3 linked regions of the Homo sapiens genome follow. The protein of the gene in region 1 purifies or fractionates together with the protein of each later gene. This does not show direct contact. Each region holds a gene or a part of one and is shown on either strand. Other genes may lie near its edges. The genes, in order: MKLN1, MMADHC and SYT1.

What was found.
Region 2: the proteins of MKLN1 (region 1) and MMADHC purify together in Homo sapiens (affinity purification with mass spectrometry; one large-scale study listed by BioGRID and IntAct). This does not show direct contact.
Region 3: the proteins of MKLN1 (region 1) and SYT1 purify together in Homo sapiens (co-immunoprecipitation; one large-scale study listed by IntAct). This does not show direct contact.

What each region holds. Positions count from the first base shown.
Region 1 is NC_000007.14:131,397,294-131,400,950, forward strand, and holds part of MKLN1 (muskelin), read left to right. Parts: coding exon 1-83; intron 84-1,944; exon of another isoform or gene 1,945-1,947; coding exon 1,948-2,140; intron 2,141-3,657. UniProt on the Homo sapiens protein: Component of the CTLH E3 ubiquitin-protein ligase complex that selectively accepts ubiquitin from UBE2H and mediates ubiquitination and subsequent proteasomal degradation of the transcription factor HBP1.
Region 2 is NC_000002.12:149,585,661-149,589,417, reverse strand, and holds the start of MMADHC (cobalamin trafficking protein CblD), read left to right. Parts: upstream 1-1,642; 5' UTR 1,643-1,754; exon of another isoform or gene 1,755-2,060; intron 2,061-2,268; 5' UTR 2,269-2,320; coding exon 2,321-2,329; intron 2,330-3,757. UniProt on the Homo sapiens protein: Involved in cobalamin metabolism and trafficking. Plays a role in regulating the biosynthesis and the proportion of two coenzymes, methylcob(III)alamin (MeCbl) and 5'-deoxyadenosylcobalamin (AdoCbl). Promotes oxidation of cob(II)alamin bound to MMACHC.
Region 3 is NC_000012.12:79,298,256-79,301,912, reverse strand, and holds part of SYT1 (synaptotagmin-1), read right to left. Parts: intron 2,530-3,657; coding exon 2,362-2,529; intron 1-2,361. UniProt on the Homo sapiens protein: Calcium sensor that participates in triggering neurotransmitter release at the synapse. May have a regulatory role in the membrane interactions during trafficking of synaptic vesicles at the active zone of the synapse.

The sequences.
Region 1 (3,657 bases):
TTAACTTTAGCATCTGGTATGTTGAACTTAGTGGCATTGATGATCCTGATATAGTACAACCTTGTCTCAACTGGTATAGCAAGGTAGGACTGTGTTTTAAATCCTGACTTTAATGCCTATAAAAGGAGAAATATGTCAATCTCTTATCTTCATTGAGAATAATTTAAAATATTCAAAATAATAATAACAACAGTTAGCTAACATTTTATTAAGCACTTCCAGTCTGCCAGCTTTTAAGGAATCCTGATAACTCACTTAGTCATTATCACTCTATGAGACAGGTGCACTTATTATCCCCATTAGTTTATAGATGAAGAAATGAAGAACAGAGAGATTAAATAGTTTGCCTAGGATCACACAATTGTAAAGTGTTTGAGCCAGTATATGAATTCAGGCAGTTTGGCTCCACAGTCTGCTTTTATGTTATTATACCCATTTGACTCTGAATTTTGTTTTTTCACTTGTATTCATATAAATACTTAAAACATAGTTTTTAGTGGGATAGTTTTGCAGCCTAATGGAAAATTTAAGATGTGGATGTGATTTAGACTCCTAAAGTAGTCAACAGGGTTAAAAAATACTGCTGTTTAATATAACTGTAATATATATTGTTACATGGTAGTTATGATAAGTCTTTTTTAGAGGCCAAGAGTAAGTTAATTATAGTTAACTAATTATAATTAAGTTGTTAATTAATTATAGTTAATTATAACGTGTAAGGATTAGGTGTTTAATGACCTTTTATTAGTTAAGTCAGCTATCAACTGATTTGTTTCAAATCTTATACATCTTCCTAAACACATTATTTTCTTGCCTTATTAAAGGGTCATGCCTATAAGTAAATCATTGTTGTTTGATTATCATGCAGGCTTCCATGTCATCTGTTTGTTTGAATAGTGGTATACTTAGGAAGTTTGAGGTAGTCCCAGAACATATTCCTGAAGTTGAGATTTTTTTAAAAAAATCCTTTTTATAAGATTGTATTTTTGGCATCTATCCTATTAGGGGAAAATTTTAATAAATTAAGTGCCTGCTTTTTGGATTCCAGTTAATTGAGATGTCTACTTTATAGCTGCTTAATAGATGAGGTAGTTCAGGCTTAGAAAACAATTAAATTGGGCCGGGCGCAGTGGCTCACACCTGTAATCCCAGCACTTTGGGAGACCAAAGTGGGCAGATTGCCTGAGGTCAGGAGTTCAAGACCATCCTGACCAACATGGTGAAACCCCGACTCTACTAAAAATACAAAAATTAGCTGGGCGTGGTAGCGCGTGCCTGTAAGCTCAGCTACTTAGGAGGCTGAGGCAGAATTGCTTGAACCTGGGAGGCGGAGGTTGCAGTGAGCTGAGATTATGCCGCTACAGTCCAGCCTGGGAGACAGAGCAAGACCCTGTCTCAAAAAAAGAAAGAAAAAAAAAAAGATTAAATGTCTCTTTTTGATGATTTTTGAGTCATAAAATGTGTTTGTAAATTTGAAATATCTGTATACTTGATACTTGTCATTCAAGTAATAGTTTATTTTTAAAAACCAAAAATAGCATAATATAATTTATGTGGATTATTTAATGTTCTTTTGTGCTCTCAGTACCTGCATTGTAATGGGATTAATAGATGCTATGGAGTTATAATTTTTACAGTATTAAGTGGAGTTTAAGAAATAGATGTTCTCCCTTTCTTCAAAGTTGAGGCTCTGGAATTAGGTTTGGTTTAATAACTTTTGGCTACATATTTTGTGACCTTGAGCAAGTTATTGGAACAGGCCAAGCTTTAGTTTTGCTAGTTAAAAGAGCCAAATAATGATACCTAATGAATCAGGTTAGTAAACTGCTTGGCACATAGTGTTAATAAATGCTCAGTGTAGATTAGTTATTTTTACTGTTGTTATTGTTTCCTACAGTATCATCTAACCAAATCTCTTCTTTCCATACTTACTCTGTGTTCTAGTAGTACCGTGAACAGGAAGCTATTCGCCTTTGCCTAAAACACTTCAGACAACACAACTATACAGAAGCTTTTGAGTCACTGCAAAAGAAAACCAAGATTGCACTGGAACATCCCATGTTAACAGATATTCATGACAAGCTGGTGTTGAAGGGTGATTTTGATGCTTGCGAAGAGTTGATTGAAAAGGCTGTAAATGGTATGAAACTTAGATTGGTTATTAGGGTAAATTCAAGTACATACGGGAAACTTTTTCTCAAAAATAATATAGGCTTATGCCAGTTATTACTGTAATTTTTTTTCTTGGTTTTTTACTCGGTTAAAGATTGTTATCTCTTTGGATTAGGGACTTCTTTCATGTAAAATAGATCCATGATGTAATGAGACTTAAAAAATTGAAATGTACTTGAACTCACATATAAATTTAAGTTGTCATCTTGGGAAACCATGCACTTACAAATGATTAACTAGCATTAAACTGTATCAGAAATAATATTTTGATATTGGTAGCCAATATTCATTAACAGTGTAGTTTTGAGGAGAAGGGGGGCTAGATAATAAAAAATGTTATTAGTAAACAATTATATATAAGGAACAAGGAGATTTGTATTGAAAACAACTTCCTTGTGGTGTGAATGCTATATAATTGCTGATTTTCTTGTGTGACCTGTAGTCTGGCTTTGAAAGAAATGTGAATAGTTGAACATCTGTATTATCTCCCAGGGTATTGGCTTTGGAGGGTAACACTCATTTGGATTTTTAAGGTCTGATGTGTTTTGTTATTTAAACTAAAAAGGGACTCTGTTGTTGCTTATAGTATGACTTTTTTTTTTAATCTTCCTCAGTAACTTTCATAGTGACAAACAACAGAATAGTTGCACAATATAAAACTTGTGGAATTGAATTTGGTGCATCCTTTATAGGAAGAAATAAGAAATAATAGATTATTCAGTGGTTTGCTCTCATTTTAATTTTATCACTGTTATTATCGTCTATTATTAGGTATTCATATTTATCAGATATTGGGTAGCTAAAAAAAAACCAGACTTGTACTGCCTTGAGTTTATAAATTTAAAGTTAACTTAAAATGAATTGCTTTGAGCTCCACTTTTTGAAATATGACAAATCTGCTTCTAAGCCTTGTGCATTGTTATTGCTTACTTGATTGATGATGATACTTGCAAATAAATGATAGGTATGTTTGAAATTGAGTATATTTTGGAGTATAAACAAACAAATAACTAATCTCTTAACAGACTTTAAAATGCTACCAATAAAAAAAAAATATATATATATATATATATATGCCATTTCTAGGAGTGAATTCTGTGGGTTTTTTTTAACCTCATAAGATGAGGGAGGCATAGGTAATTTTAGGGCTTTTTTGTTTGTTTCAGATATTTATCAGTAAGGCATTTGATACCATTTTGTGAAGGGAAAGCAAAACAACAGCCACAGGCAACTCTACAGTTAATAAGCTAAAAACAGTTATATTTTAAAGGTCTCTTTAGTGACGTACTCAGTTGGTTAAGATTAGCTGATAAAAATCTTGTGCAGTTTTGATATCTACAGAGACTTAACTTATCCTTTGGCTCTAGAAAGGAACCAAGTTTAGAGAAATTAGTAGTTGCTCAATTCTTGAAACTTACAGCCACATCATAGTTTTTGTACTGTGAATACTATGGGCTTTCTAAACTGGCCTGGAACACTGTTAGT
Region 2 (3,757 bases), on another chromosome or scaffold:
GTCTCACACTGGAGTGGAAGGCTACAGACAAGCAAGGGGAGAAGGCTGCAATGATCCATATGGTGCTGGAATTGAACTGAAGATAACAGCTCTAGTATTTGAACCTAGAACGCCTGTGTAGCTGTCAAAGATACAGATGGATACATATATAAATACTTACAGATATGCGTATTTAGTCAGGTTAGCATATCCACAAATATTTCCTTGCTCTGTCAGCTGAGAGTGTCTAGAAGCAACAACATCCCAAATGTCCAAATCTTGATTTCTAATATCATTTTCCATTAAAAGTACCCTTGGCTTTTTGGGGAAGCAGCTGATTCTAGGATTGGGGCAGGGAATATACAAGATGAGCCTGGAGCAACTTATAGAAATTAAGAAAATGCTCAAGAAAAAAAATCAATAAACATAAAACGAGGAGGGTTTGTCAAAAAGACACAAATGCCAACTAAAGGAAATCTCAATAGCCAAAGCTGGAACCAATATGAACAACAAAATAAAGTAGTATTGGATTATAACCCAAAATGTAAAATAAATATCCATGAGTCCATACTGACATAAATGATTGAATACATAAATAAATGCAGTACAGACAAATCTCCCATGCAGAAGAATTCCAAATAATTCATGAAGATATTCTGTCCTCATAAAGGTGGAGTATAACAATTTCCCATTCCTATAGTTTGGGCTGCACAGAGAGATGTCCTTCCAAATAGTATAGTATGGAGAGGAAAAGAAAAACAGTAACTTCACAGTGGAGAAACCTGACAAACCCTACATAGGGAGGTGGAAGGGCTTACTAGATGAAACAAAGGGGATCTTTGTAGAACTATAAAACTTTTCTGTATGACACTGTAATAATGGTGATAAAGGTTAGCATCAACAGTAATAAGTCATGTTGATAGTATATACCCTTGATGTGATGTGATGAGAAGATCACTTTACCTTACCTCTTAACTCAAGAAAAACCCATAACCTCAGTTAATGCATGAGAAAAATACAGGCAAAACCCAATTGAAGGACATTTGACCAAATGACCAATAAGTCGCTTCAAAACTATTAAGGTTATCAAAAACAAGGAAAGTTTGAGAAACGGTCACGGTCCAGAGGAGCCTGGAAGACATGGTGATGTACTCCGGACAGGATCCTGGAATGGAAAAGAATACCAGGTCGAAAACTAAGGACATCTGGAATAAAATATGGGCTTATGGGCTTTAATCAATTTTTAAAAAAGTATTAGATACATGAAAATGATACACGATTTACAAATCAATCGCCTAATATTTATCGAGCATATTGAGAGCCTGGCACTGTGGTAGGGCTGGGGACACAGAAAGAGGTAAGTGCCCTATGCTCAAAAACAGCGATTCATGAAAAATAAACAACTATGACAAAAAGAACAGAAGACTGTATCTCCTGGAGGCAGTAAGGAAGGCTTAAGTTGGGAGGACTATCAAACGCATCAAGGAGTTACTGAAGATTAACTGACCCGCCTAACGCAGGTCGGAAGCCCTCCTATCCATCCACCCAAATCACCCCTGCCCCACCTTTTCTCCTCCCTTGCGTTTACCCAATGGCAGGTCGGCTCCACGTAGGCCTACTTTGCGCGTGCGCATCATCGTTTCGACGCGCTCGGAAGCAACTTCCTTTGCCTGCTCACCGCCAGCGTAGGTGCTACCACCGCTGCCGTCGCCGCCGCCATTTTGATGGCAGGAAGAGTCCGGTTCTGGGACAGCTGGAGACAGTGGTGGTGACTGGTACGGATGGTTTCCGCCCATGTTAGCCCCTCCAAATTTGCCCGTGTTAGGGTTACAGCCCTCGGTATTGCCCGTATTTTCACTGGGTCCCTGTCGTTGTCCCCAGCCATCCTGTCCGTCTGTCTTTAGTCTCTTTTCTGCTTCCTCATCTTTCCGATCAGCCTGAAGCTTTGCTTGGAGCTGTTGTTACGCAGCCCCAACTTCTGTTAAAGCAGCCGCTTCGATCCTCTGGACTGAATTTTGGCCACCCAGCCCCCATTCCCCTCCCGGATCTGGTCCGAGTTGTTTTTCCGCGGCTGTAAACCGGAAGGGCTCTGAGCTGCACTGCCGGCTCCGGGCTGGGGGATCTGTGCCTGGCATGGGGGCGAGTTCTGGCCTCCTTAGGGTACGGGGAGAGCTTGGACTTTGGTCCTGACGTGGTGGACGACACACCTTCGAAGAGTGGACGTTACCTCAGTTGTCTGTTGTTAGAGTTTAATCGATCACTCGTCTGTTTTGTTGTGTTCTTTCCCAGAAATAACTTTACCAAAGGAAAGCTATTTTGCGAACTATCTTCTCCAGCGGAGATGGCCAATGTGAGTAAATTATCTCTTAAGAATCAGCATAGTAAACTCGTTTGGGAATGTTAGGAATGAAAGAACGGGTTTAATTATGATGGCATTGGGTGGTATAGTGTTAGATATAATGTATCAAAAATGTCAAGGGAAGCAAGTGGTGTGAAATTATGTTATGCTTTGAAGATGGTAGCATTCTTTGCACTGCAAATACACTTATTTATACAATTTCATTTGTACAGATGTGGAAATTCAAGCACCCTTTCGGTATTTTTTAAATACAGCGTTTCAGTAAATATTAGAATCTATGTTTAGGCCCTTTTTTAGCTTTTGGGTTAGCTAAACTGAAGGGTTTTTTTAATCTTTTTTTCTTTTTTTTAAAACAGTTTCCATATTGGAAGTGACCTTCTAAATCCTACAAAATAAGAATAGGAGATACTCTCACACACCAGAGATATTTATTGACTGTAACTTTGCAGTGATTAGACACATCCTATCTATAGAATTCATATGTAGCGGTCATAAGACATATATAAAAACAGCTACAATTAAAGTATAAAGTAATAATTTTTTTTAGAACCTACACGAAGGTGCAATGCAGATTCAAGTCTTTGTGGAGAGGAGTTTGGGATCACTTCATGAGGGAAACATTTAACTTGAGGTTTGAAAGATAGGTGGGATTTGTATAGTCTAAAATATGAGCGGGAAGGACAGGAAGGTATATTCAAAGAACTCCCCAACCCGCCTACCCCTTTGAAAAACTGAAAAGTGACTGCTGCCTGCCAACCTGAATGTAAGCTGCATGAAAGAGATAAGTGGGAGATAAGGTTGAATTGTGAGGTTGGTACCAAGTAAATGAGAGCCTTGAATGCCGAACTCAGTAATTTAGACTTCATTCTTTAAATTGTGATTATTCACTTAGAGCTGTGTGCTAGGAAGATTTATATGGCAGCATTTAGCCAGGATGCTATTTCTGTAATTGAACATGGTATATTAAGTCTAAAGTGTGACTATAGAGACAAGTCATAAGAATAGATTACTAGTCTTGGCCAAGTTCTATGGTGAATTTTTGCCTGCCCATAACCTGCACAGAAAGAGAATGCTGTAAAAGAAGTATGTGGTACTTTCAAAGGAGAGAAATTAATTGAAGTAGAATAGAATGCTATTATTTGACCTGGTTTTATTTTGGTTTAAATGAATAAATTATAATAGTTCAGTAGGGAAGATCCTTTTATAAGTCTTTTGTTAGAAAGAAGTTCATATTAAAATAAATTTAAGTTTCAGTATCCAAATGTACGATAACAATTTTTGTGTTAATTTATATGGATTGTAAATTGTGGATGGATGTTACTAATGAAATATGCAGATAGTGTTTCATAACAAGGGGCAAGAATGTTCATGTTTCAGAGTCTAGACAGGTACATTAAGAAGCCTTCATGGGGACTGTGA
Region 3 (3,657 bases), on another chromosome or scaffold:
ATCTGTCTTATACAGTTTTTTATAACCTATACCTTGATAAAGAGAAATAGTCTAACTGAAAACCAAAAATTTCTATTCCTGAGTAGAAATCAAAGAGGAAAGTCTCTAGAGTTTTACGAGTGTAATGATAAAATTAATATTTCCCATTAATAACTCCTACAGATACTCAGTAAGTGCAATGGTGAGAAAAAGGATAGCGAAGTAGATAAAAATAGAGGGAAGAGACACAACAAATGAGGAGATGAACACACAAAATGGGGAAAGAGAACACACACACAAAATTAACCAAGAAAAAGGTATGAGAGACCTCTCACTTAGTGAACATTTACCATATGCCAGACTCTATGCTGGGTACTTCATGTTCTATTCTATTTCATCGGTAAGTAAGATAAGGGGTAAATCATGTTAGGCCACTTTCTAGGTTAAAATTCTGAATGGGCAGTTTACCTAAACCCCTAGATTCTAGAGTGAAACCCGTCAGCCTGGTGTTAAGTTTCAAACTCTGCTCGTACTCAAAGATTTCTGAAAGAGGAAACTTGCTCAATGGTCCACATTCCCTTAGCTCAGAAAAAAACATTGCACAATTTTTCAGAAACCCACTGGGTGTGATCTTGGATGTCATTACCACCTGATAATTATCCAGGTGAAAGTAACAAGTGTGAACCATGCACCCTGCACAAGTGGGCATTGTGAAGTACCAGTGGTTCATGTTCTCATATTCAACCAACAAGCCAACCAAACACCAGTCAATTAATAAAACCAATCAGTTAATAAACATTTCTTATGGTCCTACTTTATCACCCAAAAAATTTACACAAAGTCAAACACTTCAACAAAAAAGTCAATGAAACATCCCACTACTTTGTTAAATAATTATAAACATTGTAACTGAATGATCGAATTTTTTTTTTCATGAAGATGTCTGTAACATTACTATTAGTTCACTTATAGGAAAGAACTATCCATAAAATCATATAATTTTAAAACTCGGTATTTTTCCTGGGTATTCTTGAATATCCACAGTAGGGCTAAATCTGTGTCAATGTCTAAGAAAGGTTAGTCAACATTCTTAGATATTGAGACAGTAAATATATATATATATATATATATATATATATATATAATAAGTATACATGAATATTATATACAAAAATACTTAAGCTCTGCTCTCTTTTTTGGAAAGTATAAGTATACATACTTTTTTCCAAAAAAAAGAGCAGAGTTTAACTTAAGTATTTTTGACTCATTTTGTAAAATCAAATAGCAAACAGCAATGTTAGAGTGAAAAGTTCAATTTCAGCATGGGAATTAATAGGCCTGTTCTAAAACCTCATTTCATCATATAGGGGGTATAAAGTTCATAGCCTCAGATTGGTCACAGAAAACCTTAGGCTGAGAGGATTCCCAGGTGATGGACTTGATTGAGTTTCTCTGAAGGCCTGACGTTCTCTCTGATCTCCCTGGTGACCCCAAGAGGCCAGGGAATCCTAGGGACCTGGAGATCCTAAATGACTGAGCTGTCAGCAATCTCTTGCGTAATTACAGCCTTACGTCAGGAACTAAAGAGTGACTGCGAAAGGAGTTGTTTTAGGAATTTGGAGAAGCTAAGGGTTGTTTGCTTTTCTAGTATTGGTCTACTGAAATGTTTGCAGAGAAAAATGCTGGTGCCAGGCAGGCATCGCATAATCAGATACAATTGATTATTATGAAGCTTAAATGCACTAAACATATTGAACTTCCCTTTTCAAGTCATGGAAAAATACTGGGCTAAACTATTAAAACTGGGAATAAACAATGTGAGGAGTAGCATAAAAATGTGAGTCATTTAAAAAATGGATTTAATATCAGGCTTTGTGAATTATATTTGATGTTTGACCAATCATGCTCTCGTATCTTTAGGAGAAACAATGAACTGTCTGTGATATGCAGAAACAATCAAGGAAAAAGTACCATTTTATTTCTGTGTAATAGCTACATAACCTATGCAGAAAACACAAAATGATTGTGGAAAAATGAGAAATAAAATAATTTTTCGTTGTCATTTTAAAGCAGTAGTTTATGAGTGTGTGTGGCCTTTTGTAAGCTTTTAGAAAGAGTTCCTGTGGGCATGTGTGTTTGTTTGTGTCCAGGGTTGCTGTTTCTAGATCCAGTACACAAATGTCTCTCTTCTTTCAGATAACACCCAGAAGACCTGTACACTTTTTAACGAGGTGGTGCAGTGCCCTTGACCCTATTTTATCAGCTGTCAACAACTAGAGGCCCACATCCCCCTTTGTAAAGAGTATTTCTCAATAAGTTATTATATGAGCAGCAACTGGCGAGTACAGCTTGTGATGTTAGAAATGCTAGTAATTCCCTTACCTCTTCCTTCTCAGCACTTTGCAGGTCACGCCATTCCTCAGTTACATGGCCAAAATCCACTGTGTTCATAGGGACTTTAAATTCTCCAATGATGTCATGCTTAGAGAAACGATCAAAATCATATACAGCCATCACTAGGGTTTTGCCACCCAATTCCGAGTATGGTACCTAAATTAAAAGACATGAGGATAAAATATCCAGTCACAAAAATGCTTAAAACATGTTACTTGTTCATGGTGCTTAATTTAATATTTACGTTGCATAAACAGAACAGGGAGATAATTTTGTTTTTGGTTATTTTTTAAATTCAGACTTTTGACAAACTGCTTGAGGCTAAAATTACTTGAGAGAAAATGGGAAATTTTAGTGATTTATTGCCTTATCTCAAAGTTCTAGAAGCTGTTAGCATTATTAATAATGGATCCTGCTGTTAGTTATACTATAAAGCCTTAAGATTAATAAAACAATAAACAAGCCAATTGCATTTGACTATAAGTAAGTTTTTCTTGTAGAATATTTTGTTGTTATTGTTGTTTTAAGTTGTATTGTCAGGGTGTAACTTACTGAGGGGCAAATAACTTATTTCAAATGCTCCATTAACTCTTTCAAGGCATTTAAATGCCACAGTTCAATGGAGCAATGATTTATTAAAGGCTATGCTAGGAGTCTGAAAGGATTGAAATGATATTCACAAGTGCCTCACCTACTCCCTAAAATAATTTGCTGATTGACAAGAACTGACTAGGAAATTGATGTTTTGAATATAAGAGGTGCATTATAATATGGGTTTTGAAGTTCATTCTTGGGTATGACATGCCTTAGGATGAGTGGTGGCAAAAGGCCAAGAACTGATGAATTCTCCAGCTGTTCAAATATATCTGGGACAGATGCTATGGGTTGGGATGTTTATTAGTGACATTTTTAATATTCAGTGAAAGCAGTGCAATCCAAGTAAGCTACACTTCAGTAACTGGGTAGAAATACCTAATTAAGAAATTGTTTAGACTTGTCTTAAAGGTTTGATCAATTTTCATACACTTCCTATTATTTTATCAGTGTAAATGGTTGTCTTATGCTTCAGCAAACATTTCTCAATTAACTCTGTATATTAAGGAGGGAAGAAAAGGAAGAATATTGGGCCATCTACATACAAGAAATTTTAGTTTTCCAAAGAGTTTTTCTTTTCTGTCATTTATTTACCATCTGTTTGGAACCTGATTATTTTATTAAAATGATATGATTAAAAAGTAAGCATCATCCTTTTTCCATTTTAGAAGGAATGGAAAATAAACCCTT